Homo sapiens: one gene and its partners. The protein of the gene in region 1 interacts with the protein of each later gene in a pairwise test. Each region holds a gene or a part of one and is shown in the gene's direction. Other genes may lie near its edges. The genes, in order: BCL11A, NR2F6 and NFAM1.

Evidence for each region.
Region 2: the proteins of BCL11A (region 1) and NR2F6 interact in a two-hybrid assay, tested with the Homo sapiens proteins (one study listed by BioGRID).
Region 3: the proteins of BCL11A (region 1) and NFAM1 interact in binary tests that used the Homo sapiens proteins (3 or more experiments, as listed by UniProt).

Annotation. Positions count from the first base shown.
Region 1 is NC_000002.12:60,546,978-60,550,722, reverse strand, and holds part of BCL11A (BCL11 transcription factor A), read left to right. Parts: intron 1-496; exon of another isoform or gene 497-918; intron 919-3,745. UniProt on the Homo sapiens protein: Transcription factor. Associated with the BAF SWI/SNF chromatin remodeling complex. Binds to the 5'-TGACCA-3' sequence motif in regulatory regions of target genes, including a distal promoter of the HBG1 hemoglobin subunit gamma-1 gene.
Region 2 is NC_000019.10:17,232,274-17,236,018, reverse strand, and holds part of NR2F6 (nuclear receptor subfamily 2 group F member 6), read left to right. Parts: coding exon 1-520; intron 521-3,392; coding exon 3,393-3,667; 3' UTR 3,668-3,745. UniProt on the Homo sapiens protein: Transcription factor predominantly involved in transcriptional repression.
Region 3 is NC_000022.11:42,430,888-42,434,632, reverse strand, and holds the start of NFAM1 (NFAT activation molecule 1 isoform 1 precursor), read left to right. Parts: upstream 1-2,229; 5' UTR 2,230-2,275; coding exon 2,276-2,396; intron 2,397-3,745. UniProt on the Homo sapiens protein: May function in immune system as a receptor which activates via the calcineurin/NFAT-signaling pathway the downstream cytokine gene promoters. Activates the transcription of IL-13 and TNF-alpha promoters.

The DNA of each region.
Region 1 (3,745 bases):
TGGGACACTCTAGGCTGGGAGGGTTAGTACCCCCTCCTCCTGTCCCGGGGTTAAAGGGCCAGTTTGGGAGGGGGTGAGGGGGCCACTTCTTTCTGTCCTCATTTTCTGGGTGCTCAGAGGGGGCAGGAGCCATCCCGGTCCTCAGTACCACCCCCCCGCCCCCCGCCTCTGCTATGTGGGCTGAATGAGCCATTCGGTCGCTAGGAGGCAGAACAAGATCAAGAAAGCTCAGCGAACTTGAACCTGTACCAGAGCCTCCCCCACCTCCTGCCCGGCGATTCTCGTCCGGGGAGGAACGAGCTTTGCGAGGGTGGGGGTGGGGGGAAAGAACGGTTAGGCAGAATTCCCTTTCTCTCCCCCATCACCCCGTATGTCTTTGTTCTTCATTTTGACTTTAAAAATGCTTCTGGCCGGGGCCGCGGAGAAGCGACCGGGCGCGCGGCCGACACCCCCGTGCGCGAGCTGAGACCAGCGCGCGCCGGGCTCGGAGCACGGTGCAGTTTTCGCTTTCTTTCGGGGCCGGCATTTTTGGTAGGGAGGAACCGGGAGTGCGCGCTCTAGGGCTTCGGGGCATGGCCGAAGAGGGGGATATGGCAAGTTTGCACTTGGTCTCCAGCCTCACTTCTTCCACCCCCTCACCCCCATGCAAAGCACAGACCTCGGTGGCCTCGGCTGGCTTGCTGGGCGGCTCTGCAGCCCGACACCCCCCCTCTCGCCTCGGAGCTCGGAATCACAACAATAGTAATAGTTATCATCATAATGATGCGGGCAGGCAGCGTCATTAATAATGAATAACCGCAGCCGCCGCCGCGCACACCCAGTGCCCAGAATTGCGGGGGAAATGCATTTGCAGAGATCCCCCAAAGTAAAAAGTGTAAGCTTGTGGACACAGAATGAATCTCAGGACCCGCGCTTGAGGTGTGTGCGGAGATACTGAGACTGCACCAGGTTAACCAGCCGGGTTTTCCAAACCTCACTTCCTTTTTCACCAACTGGCAGGCCCAGGGAACCGTCACCCCGCGGCCGAGCTGGCCGAGCTGGACGGGCATGGAGGCAGCAGTCAGGGCCCCTGGCTGCCCTCCGTCTCCGGGCCCCCGGGCCCCAAGGCCCCGCGGCCGCTGCTGCACGTGTTCGCAGCAAGCGCGGCGGGAGCCTGCAGCCAGCACGCTGCTCGCTTTGTGCCTCAGAGTCCCCGCGCCCAACTTCACTTTCTGCACGGTCCACCCTTGCCGGGGCCCCTGCCCCGGGCCTGTAGCCCCCGGCTTTGCTTTTGTTTCTTTGCTTTTCCTCTCTGAATTTCAGCCTCCGTTTGCTTCTTTACCCTGTTAAGACAATCAAGGAGAAGGACTTGGAAAGCAAACTTGAAGACACATCTCCCTTTCCCCCTCCCCCTCCGCTCCCCGGCAGCTCTCGTTTTGCTCGCTCCTTACCAACATTTCCTATAAGGATTATTTTTTTCCCTTAAATTTATTCTTTTGCAACTACACAGAGAGGAAAGAGATCTCAGTCTGTCACTGAGACATTGAGACGTTCCAGGCTGTCTTGCTGTTTGAACGTAGAAGCATTTTATTTTCTATTTCTTCCTCCCCTCGTAGAGAGAATTCGCGGCTAATTATTATGATTATTTGCCCACTCCCTTCCACTTCAATCGAGGACTCCCTGCTTTGTAGCCGGAGTTTAGGCCGGAGCTTAGAAATGTTGGTATTGTTGGGGCGAAGGAGGATGGAGTTGAATTGAGGGAGGGGGTAAATGGCTGAGGGTTAGGAAGGTTTTTAGGGAAAGGGGAATTTGCATTAAAATGCAGAGAAATTATCAGATGCCCAGAAAGGAAATGTTGATTGCCACTGAGAAAAGATGTCAATGCAAATCAGTAGACTACACCATGAGAATTGTATTTTCATATTTTCTTTGTGTCCCACTTTGTCTGATTTTTAATAATATACCAGCAATGATAAAAACACGTTTTGGTATTTCTCTGAACACCACTAGCCAAATGTTTTGCAAGGAGACCGATGTTAAACGTATTTCATACATTAGAATATAATTCTTGTTAATTAGCAATAATTTACGTTAAGAGCATAGAAAATGTTGAGGTTACAGGTTTTATATCTGTACATTTGATCATCTTGTTATTTTCAAGAACTTTGCCTCCTATAAAATTAATTAGGTGAAATGTGGAGGTGTAATCAGCAACCTCTGAATTACCACTTCATTTCCCGGTTTTGATTGTAAATCAGTTCAGTCACTACATTTAGAAGACTTTAACCAAGTCTGTTTTGAACCACATTACCTTTAACTATTTGATACCTAGGAGAATATTTCCTTTTGCACCTAAATAATATTCCCACTTTTAGAAATGTGTCAGACCTTGGGAACAAAAAAAAAAAAAAAAGAATCTTAACGGTGGAAATAAAAAATTTTTTTTTTTGCAAAGGTTCTATGTACTAGTAAGTTTGATAAAATATTTTCCTAAGTCTTCCTTCAGTCTGTAAACCTCAGAACTTGTAGCTAATGCTAAACAAAAAAGCCACATTTATCAATGTGTACTTAAAATCCTTAATTCAGACAACAGGAATATTTTGAGAATGAGTTCCCTATTCCTCACTTGGTCAAAATGGAAGCAAATGTAAGAGAAGAATGACATTAAGGCACAATGCAGAGGCACTTCTGTTTGTCTTCTTTTATTTGAAAAGTATGCATATGTATTCTGTATTTATCTTTTGGCCAGTATGTTGGGCAAAGAAACATAAGTGCTTACTTTACTGTCTTTATTAGTAGGAATATAACCTTCATATTCCTGTGGTGACCTTATGTTAAATTAGGAGGAGTACCAGAGGCTAGAAATTATGAGATGTCCTACTTGAGCACAGGTGCAGCTAGGCAGGGCTCTCTCAATATTATTTCACCTAGCACATCTGGGAGTTACTCCAGATCTTCCCCCTCAATATTCAGCCTGGGTAGGGTTGAAATAAATTTAACCTGAGTTCACTGGATTTTTGCACTTTATCAAAATCTGTTCCAATATTCTACACTCAAATTAAAATCTATTTTTTGATTCTCTGTGGCTTTAAGTTCATTAAATGTAAAATTGGCAGCTTGCTAAAGAAGGTCAGACTGATTAACTGTTTAAGACTTGTACATTTTCTGCTTCAGTTTTATTAACTGGCAGCATCCTGGATGTTTTGTATTTTGTGATTTTTTTTTTTTTTTTGATAGAGCAAGCATAAGATTTCACAAGCAGAGACTTACCAACTCTCTTTTCCCCTTTGGAAGCTTAAAAAATGATAGAAGCTGGTAAAGTAGATGCTGGAGTATTTTAGTACAAAGTTAAAAAAAAAAGCAAACAGGAAAGAAAGACATGTCTACCTTGTTATACCATCCGCTGGTGATTATGTGTGCAGAAATAGTCTCATAATGAAGCATTTTGGAGCTCATTCAGAAAATTAGTCCACTTTGACAACATTAGGCGAAGTATTTCAAGTCTAAAGAAAGGACTTCTCAGCCTTGCTCTGAAATGTGGTGTTTGCTTGACCATTCTGATTTTTATATCATAGATGCCACCAAGTGCAAACATGTTTAGAATATTATAGGCATTCCATTTCTCAGAATAAAAAAAAAATGACTAATTGGCTTATTTTCTTAAGTACTCAAAAGTATCCCATTTAGCTAATGTGTCTGAGAAATACTGCCCGTGCATTTGGTATTTCTTTGATTTTGTGGCACTGCTGAGAGTGAGAGCAGAAAG
Region 2 (3,745 bases), on another chromosome or scaffold:
GCCTCCTCGGGCAGCCCCCCGGGCTCGGCGCTGGCGGCAGTGGCGAGCGGCGGAGACCTCTTCCCGGGGCAGCCGGTGTCCGAACTGATCGCGCAGCTGCTGCGCGCTGAGCCCTACCCTGCGGCGGCCGGACGCTTCGGCGCAGGGGGCGGCGCGGCGGGCGCGGTGCTGGGCATCGACAACGTGTGCGAGCTGGCGGCGCGGCTGCTCTTCAGCACCGTGGAGTGGGCGCGCCACGCGCCCTTCTTCCCCGAGCTGCCGGTGGCCGACCAGGTGGCGCTGCTGCGCCTGAGCTGGAGCGAGCTCTTCGTGCTGAACGCGGCGCAGGCGGCGCTGCCCCTGCACACGGCGCCGCTACTGGCCGCCGCCGGCCTCCACGCCGCGCCTATGGCCGCCGAGCGCGCCGTGGCTTTCATGGACCAGGTGCGCGCCTTCCAGGAGCAGGTGGACAAGCTGGGCCGCCTGCAGGTCGACTCGGCCGAGTATGGCTGCCTCAAGGCCATCGCGCTCTTCACGCCCGGTGAGCCACGCTCCGAAGAGGGCCGCGGGATGGGGGGACCCAAGGGAGGTTAGGAGGAGGGCGGCCTGGACCCAGACTCCGGCCCCCATAGCGCCCCGCTCGCTCCCTAGGCCTGGGGCCCTGCACGCGCCGTGAGTGAACGCTCTTGGGTGGCTGTAGAGGGGTGATGTAAGCAGTGTGACACTGTGACACCCCCACTCCGTGATCCCAGGACTCTCGGAGAACTCTGAACCCCGGACCCCAGACCCAAGGCTGGGCCAGGACCAGGGCCCAGACCCCAGAACCCTCTTCCTGTTCCCAGGCTCCCTGAGACCCCTACTCCCTCACCAAAGGGCTCTTCAGGCTTAGTGAGCACTGATAGCACAAGGTTGGGGGGACGTGGGAGGGAAGGTCCTGACCCCCTGGTTCTGGCCCCCTCAGGCCCCCACTGGGCTCCCAGGGCAACCTCCAGGTAGCCAGGGTTGTAGGGATCTGGGTAGGGGCGTGGCTCGGAGGCCCCTCCCGTTGAGGGGCGGGGCAACCCCAGAACTTTCTTAACCATCAGCTATCTAGCAGTGGTAGCCCATCGTATTCCAGCGACTGGCGGTACAGCCAAATTTTTTTTTTCCACTTTATTTTTTTATTTGTATTTCCATTTTTTGAGACTGGGTCTCACCCTGTCACCCAGGCTGGAGTGCAGTTGTCCGAACACGGTTCACTGCAGCCTTGATCTCCAGGGCTCAAGCAATCCTCCCTCACACTTCAGCCTCTTGAGTAGCTGGGACCACAGGCGTGCACCACCATTCCCGGCTAATTTTTTTTTAAACGTTTTCTGTAGAGACGTGGTCTCACCGTGTTGCCTAGGCTGGTCTTGAGCTTCTGGGCGCAACCAGTCCTGCCTCAGCCACCCAAAGTGCTAGGATTACAGGCATAAGCCACCATGCCTTTAGACAAAGATCTCTCCAGCCTGTCTCCTGGGAGTTCTTTAACCTACTGGAAGTCTCTAGATCCCATCAGAGGTATCTTTGGGGCTAGGAACCAGATCCAGGCTACTCTGGGAGGTGGCTTTCATTTGATAAATATGGTTTTGGGCCTGCAAGGTGGCTCAGGCCTGTAATCACCGCACTTTAGGAAGCAGAGTTGGGAGAACCACTTGAGCCCAGGAGTTCGAGGCTCCAGTGAGCTCTGATTTTCCCACTGCACTTGAGCCTGCGCAACAGAGTGAGACCGCGTCTCAAAAATCAATAAATATGGCTTTATTTATTGTTTTCCCAGAAGATTTTTTTTTTTTTTTTTTGAGACGGAGTCTTACTCCGTCGCCCAGGCTGGAGTGCAGTAGCACGATCTCGGCTCACTGCAACCTCCGCCTCCCTGGTTCAAGCTATTCTCCTGCCTCAGCCTCCTGAGTAGCTGGGATTACAGGCACGCGTCACCACGCCTGGCTAATTTTTGTGTTTTTAGTAGAGACGGGGTTTCATCATGTTGGTCAGGCTGATCTCGAACTCCTGACCTCATGATCTGCCCGCCTCAGCCTCCCAAAGTGCTGGGATTACAGGCGTGAGCCACCGCGCCTGGCCTTCCCAGATTTCTTCTTGGCTTCCTATCTTGGGTCTCTCTCTAGAGGCTGCCACATTCTCTCACACCGTAGGCCCTTCTGGGCTCTGTCTTCCTCATCAAATTCCCTTCCCAGCCCCACCTTCCCTGCGAGCTTCCTTAGAACCCATCTCCTTGGCCTGGCTGGTGGCCCTGTAATCCCAGCACTTTGGGAGGCCGAGGTGGGGAGATTGCTTGAGGTCAGGAGTTCAAGACCAGCCTGGCCAACACAGCAAAACCCGTCTCTACTAAAAATACAAAAATTAGCTAGGCGTGGTGGAGTGTGCCTGTAATGCCAGCTACTTGTGAGGCTGCGGCAGGAGAATCACTTGAACCCGGAGGCAGAGGTTGCAGTGAGATCGTGCCACTACACTTCAGCCTGGGCGACAGTGTGAGACTCTATCTTAAAGAAAAAAAAATTAGAACCTGTCTCCCTGCCAAAGGCATGAGTTGGGTGCCAGCCACCCTTGAAACATCACTGCCTGCACCCCTATGTCACTGGTTAGATGAGAACACCTCACTATCTCTGGAGGATCGACACAGTCTTAGATAGTCCCATTTGCATCCCAGGGTCGTTTTTTGTTTTGTTTTGTTTTGTTTTGTTTTGTTTTGTTTGAGACAGGGTCTTATTACTCTGTCGCCCAGGCTGTGCTATGATCATGGATCACTGTAGCCTCAAACTCCTAGGCTCAAGAGATCCTCCCACCTCAGCCTCTTGAGGAGCTGGGACTACAAGCGTGTGCCATCACACTGGACTAATTTTTATTTTTTATTTATTTTGAGACAGGGTCTCCCTCTGTTGCCCAGGCTGGAGTGCAGTGGCACGATCTCGGCTCACTGCAACCTCCGCCTCCCAGGCTCAAGCGATCCTCCCATTAGCCTTCCGAGTAGCTGGAACTGCAGGCACGCACTACCATGCCTGGCTAATTATTCTTATTTTTAGTAGAGACGGAATATCATCATGTTGGCCAGGCTGGTCTTGAACTCCTGACCTCAAGTGATCCACCTGCCTCAGCCTCCCAAAGTGCTGGGATTACAGGCGTGAGCTACTGTGCCCAGCCCCAGCTGATTTGTTTTTGCAGAGAAGGGATCATACTATGTTGCCCTGGCTGGTCTCAAATCCTGGCCTTAAATGATGCTTCTGCCTTGGCCTCCCAAAGTGCTGGGACTGTGGCCGTGAGCCATCATGCCCGGCCCCCTGTTCTTACCCACAGTGGCGAGTGGTGTCCCCTAGTCACCCCTGTGGGCTCTGTGTTCTCTAGCTGCCTCCCACCTGTCTGACTTGCCTTTGTCCCCCTAGACGCCTGTGGCCTCTCAGACCCGGCCCACGTTGAGAGCCTGCAGGAGAAGGCGCAGGTGGCCCTCACCGAGTATGTGCGGGCGCAGTACCCGTCCCAGCCCCAGCGCTTCGGGCGCCTGCTGCTGCGGCTCCCCGCCCTGCGCGCGGTCCCTGCCTCCCTCATCTCCCAGCTGTTCTTCATGCGCCTGGTGGGGAAGACGCCCATTGAGACACTGATCAGAGACATGCTGCTGTCGGGGAGTACCTTCAACTGGCCCTACGGCTCGGGCCAGTGACCATGACGGGGCCACGTGTGCTGTGGCCAGGCCTGCAGACAGACCTCAAGGGACAGGGAATGCTGAGGCCTCGAGGGG
Region 3 (3,745 bases), on another chromosome or scaffold:
CTGGATGCGCTGCGGTTTTATTTCTATCCCCCTGGCTCCCGAGGAGGATCAGGGCCAGACACGAGGCCCCGACAGCGCAGCCAGGGCTGCTGGGCTCCTTGCCAAGGTGCGTCCCTGCCTCTCCCCAGGAGGCTGCGTGGCTGCAGAGCGTCTCAGAAACTGGGCAATGAGCTGGGACCCTCAGCTGCTTCTTGTCCAGTCATGTCTGCGCTCCACAGCCCAGGGCCTGCCTGGGGAGTATGCACGCCTCCTCCCACCCTGCCTCCCAGAGGCTACCCCTTCCCTTGAGGCCTCTTGTGCACCAGCGTGGTGTTGGGCACCTGCCTTCATATCAAGCCTGGAGGAAGGCTTCTCCCTGCCTTATGCTCACCCATCCGTCCATTCCTGCACCCCCTGGGCCAGGCTCAAGAAGGAGAGGGGAGGAAGACAGGCAGCTCAGGCAGGCAAGCGTGGAAACCAGGTGTGCAGCAGGCTAGACCCAGACTCAGAGGCGGCAGAACTCCCGGGAGTCCGAGGTACAGAGTTGGGGTGTGGGGGGCACCGTGACAGGCTGAGAGGTAGGGTCAGTGAGCTGGCACAGGGGCAGGAGCGGAGGCGGCACCAGGGCTGGAAGAGCAGGCTCCCTTGTTCCGAGGCAGTTTGGCATTCAGCTGCCTCCCAGTGCCAAGTCGTAATGAGACTTGTAGAGGCACAGACCGATGCTTTTCCAATGCTCCCCGTGTACCCTGAGGCATTGACACGAGGTCTATCACCATGGCATCAAGGTGCTTAGACAACCTGCTACTCCCAGGAGCCAGGAATAGCGTGAAGCAGCGGGTCTGCATCTCACTGTGACATATGTGAGCATGTATCACTGTGATGGATCAACAGTCAATAACACTGGGGTCCCCGCCTGCCCCCTGCGCGGTAGGAAACTTCTCCTGTTCATATGTCTTCCTCCCCTGGTGGGCGGCCCCTGCTCTTGCCAGCCTCCCAGTGCTCGTGGCATTGGTGGAAACGTCTTTAGGCTTTCACTGTTCATGTTTGGAGCAGCCCAGGGAAAAGCATGTGTGCAAAGAACTGAAATGGATCTCATGATGCCGTCACCGGGGGCTGCAGCTGGACACACCTGAGCAGGCAGTAGCAGGGTGGGAGAAGGCTCGGACATCATACCACTGGCAGTTCAAATGCCCGCCCCACAGACCTGCCCTGATCCTAGGCATGTTGTTTTGCCTCCTGGGGCCGAGGTCTTCTCTTTTGTACAACTGGGATCATCACATTTATCTGGTGAGTGAAGGGACACCTGCAGAGAAGGGAGGTAAGCGCTCAGCATGCGCTGAAACTCAGCCACCTTCCCGCCTGCGTCTTCCATGTACCAGGTGCCTCCAGCTCCACCAGCCATCACCACACCCCAGCCCCTTTCCTCTGCCACTCCAGACACGCAGGCAGATGTGTGGGTGCCAAGGGTGAGGGGCTCCCAGTCTGCTGGGGAAGGGGGTCCCGGCAGCAAACAATTCCTGTCCCCGGCTGATGCTGCTAGAAGTGAGAGCAGGGGCTGTGACCTGCAGCCAATGGGGAAGCAGTTCGAGGGTCTCACAGTTGGGAGGCCGAGTGAGCTAAGCTTTAGGGCAGCCACAGGGAGGAGCTGACGTTAGAGATGGACCAGAGAGGAGGCGTCTCCTGGGCCTCTGCAGGGGACCCACAGAGGTTCTCGCTGGGTGAATGATGGGCAGCCTGCCTTTCACCTGCCCTGGGTGTTTGGCCCTCTCTAGGGCTGGGAACATGAGGCTCCTGCCCTTCACCCCAGCCTCCCTACCACCCCTCACCAAAAAACCTACCTTTGGTAAACACATTATTAAGGGATTCTCAGAATATTTTAGAGAAGTTTGTGTGAACATGCTTGTGGTCGTTTTAAAAGTGTTTCAGAAGTGAGAGGCTAAACCAAGGCCCGAAGTCACTCATGGAAATCCCATGATCCCTCTGCACAGTTACCAGTGTCTCCTGGACGGGGCCCCTGCTGGAAAGGGGCCGAGACAGGGTGAAGCCCACCAGGGGTTGGAGTGGGGAGGCTTGGGTCCCGTCTCCAGCTCTTCTTCTGGTTGTGTGGCCTGGACCAGTCTCAGTGCCAGGTTCCTCATCTGGCGGCCACCCTGCTGGGCTGTTCCAGCTTTGCTTCTGAGCGGAAGGTCAGGGGCTGCCAGGGAGGAGCTTCGTGGGGAAAGCAAAGGGGAAGCTGTCAGCGCCGGCCGTCCCCTCCTGTGAACTAAAGAGTCGCCGCAGACAAGCAGGCCCCCAGATGGAGAACCAGCCTGTGAGGTGGCGGGCCCTGCCAGGCCTCCCACGCCCTCCTGGGCTCCCCGCAGCCCCCTGGCTCCTCCTTGGCGTGCTGCTGCTGCCCGGGACCCTGCGACTGGCAGGTAGTGTCTGTCTTCCTCCTTCTCTCTACTCTCTCGCTCCAGAACATCAGAGCGGCTTTCATCCCGCCCGGCGCAGCTAATTCCCAGGGACCTGTCTCTGGGGATTTGCTGGTTGTCGTTTGAACGCTGCAGACTTCACAGGGGAAGCCTTCTGGGACCGAGAAGATGTTTAGCTAATGCCTTGCCAAGGTGGCTTTTGAAGGGGAGGGGGACAGCGCTCTCTCCCTCGCTGCTGTGACAGCTTTGCCCCAGCAGTCTGGCCTCCTGGCCCTTAAACAAGGAGGGTGGGCGCTGTGTGGCTGGGGCCAGGGGCGGGGCAGGGGGGAGGGACAGCTCCCCATCCGAGGAACCTCACGTGGCTGCTGCGGGGGACACTGCGTTGAACCTGGCAAGTGGTGGGGCTACCCTCTGGGTTGTTGCTGGCATTGGCCAGGGAGAGCGGGGAGAGGGGGGAGGGGGGGATACCAGGGCCAGCCACAGGGCTCTGCGCCCAGAGGCACAAAACTGTCAGTCACCAGAAAGGGTCTCACCTCCCAGTTCCTGAAACACAACCAGAGGCCAAGTGTTTTAGGATGCAAGTGTGTCTTTCCACGCCAGCGGCGCTCCTTTCCTGGTTCCAGGCTTTCTTGGAAGCTGGGTGGCCGGGATCCGAGCCAAGCTGTGGGGTAGGTAGCCTCAGGGCCAGTTCATCAGGCCAGGGACGGCCCAGGAGGGTCCCATTCCAGGGCTGCCAGCACGAGGGCTCAGTGAATTCTGCCAGATTCTCTCTGCCCCTCCTTGGCCGGGCAGCAGCCAACCCTCCCTCTGGCCAAAGGGGTGGCCTCCACTGTGGAGACAGGGTGCCTTCCTTTCTATTCTCTTAGTTTATGGGGCTTTCAAGAGCTGCCCCCACCCTGTCCTGCTGCACCCCCTCTCATGACCACAAATTAGGCTTTATGGAGCCCTTAGCAGGGCACGTACTGGCCACCCTCACAGCACCCCTTGGGGCTCCTATTGTCCTCACCTGCACCATTTTAAGGACAGGGAAAAGGAGGCCCAGGGAAGCCAGTTCGTTTGCTCAAGACCTAGCCGGTAAGTAGAGGCCAGCCTCAGCCCCAGGCCAGCCTCAGCCCCAAGCTGGGCCCCTCGGCCAGTAGGCTCAGAGGATCCTCTTACTTGTAAAGAATGTTCTTCACCGGAAACTTACCCTGGGGAGGCAAAGGCTGACCTGTGTGTACCTCCCCAGGCTGCAGCCCAGAGCCCTAGGACACCATCTCCTTTAATCCTGTGCACGCCTCGCCCCACACCCCAGACAGTTGGTGCAAACACGGCCAGACCCCGGAAATGCAGCCTGTTAGTGTCAATGTGTC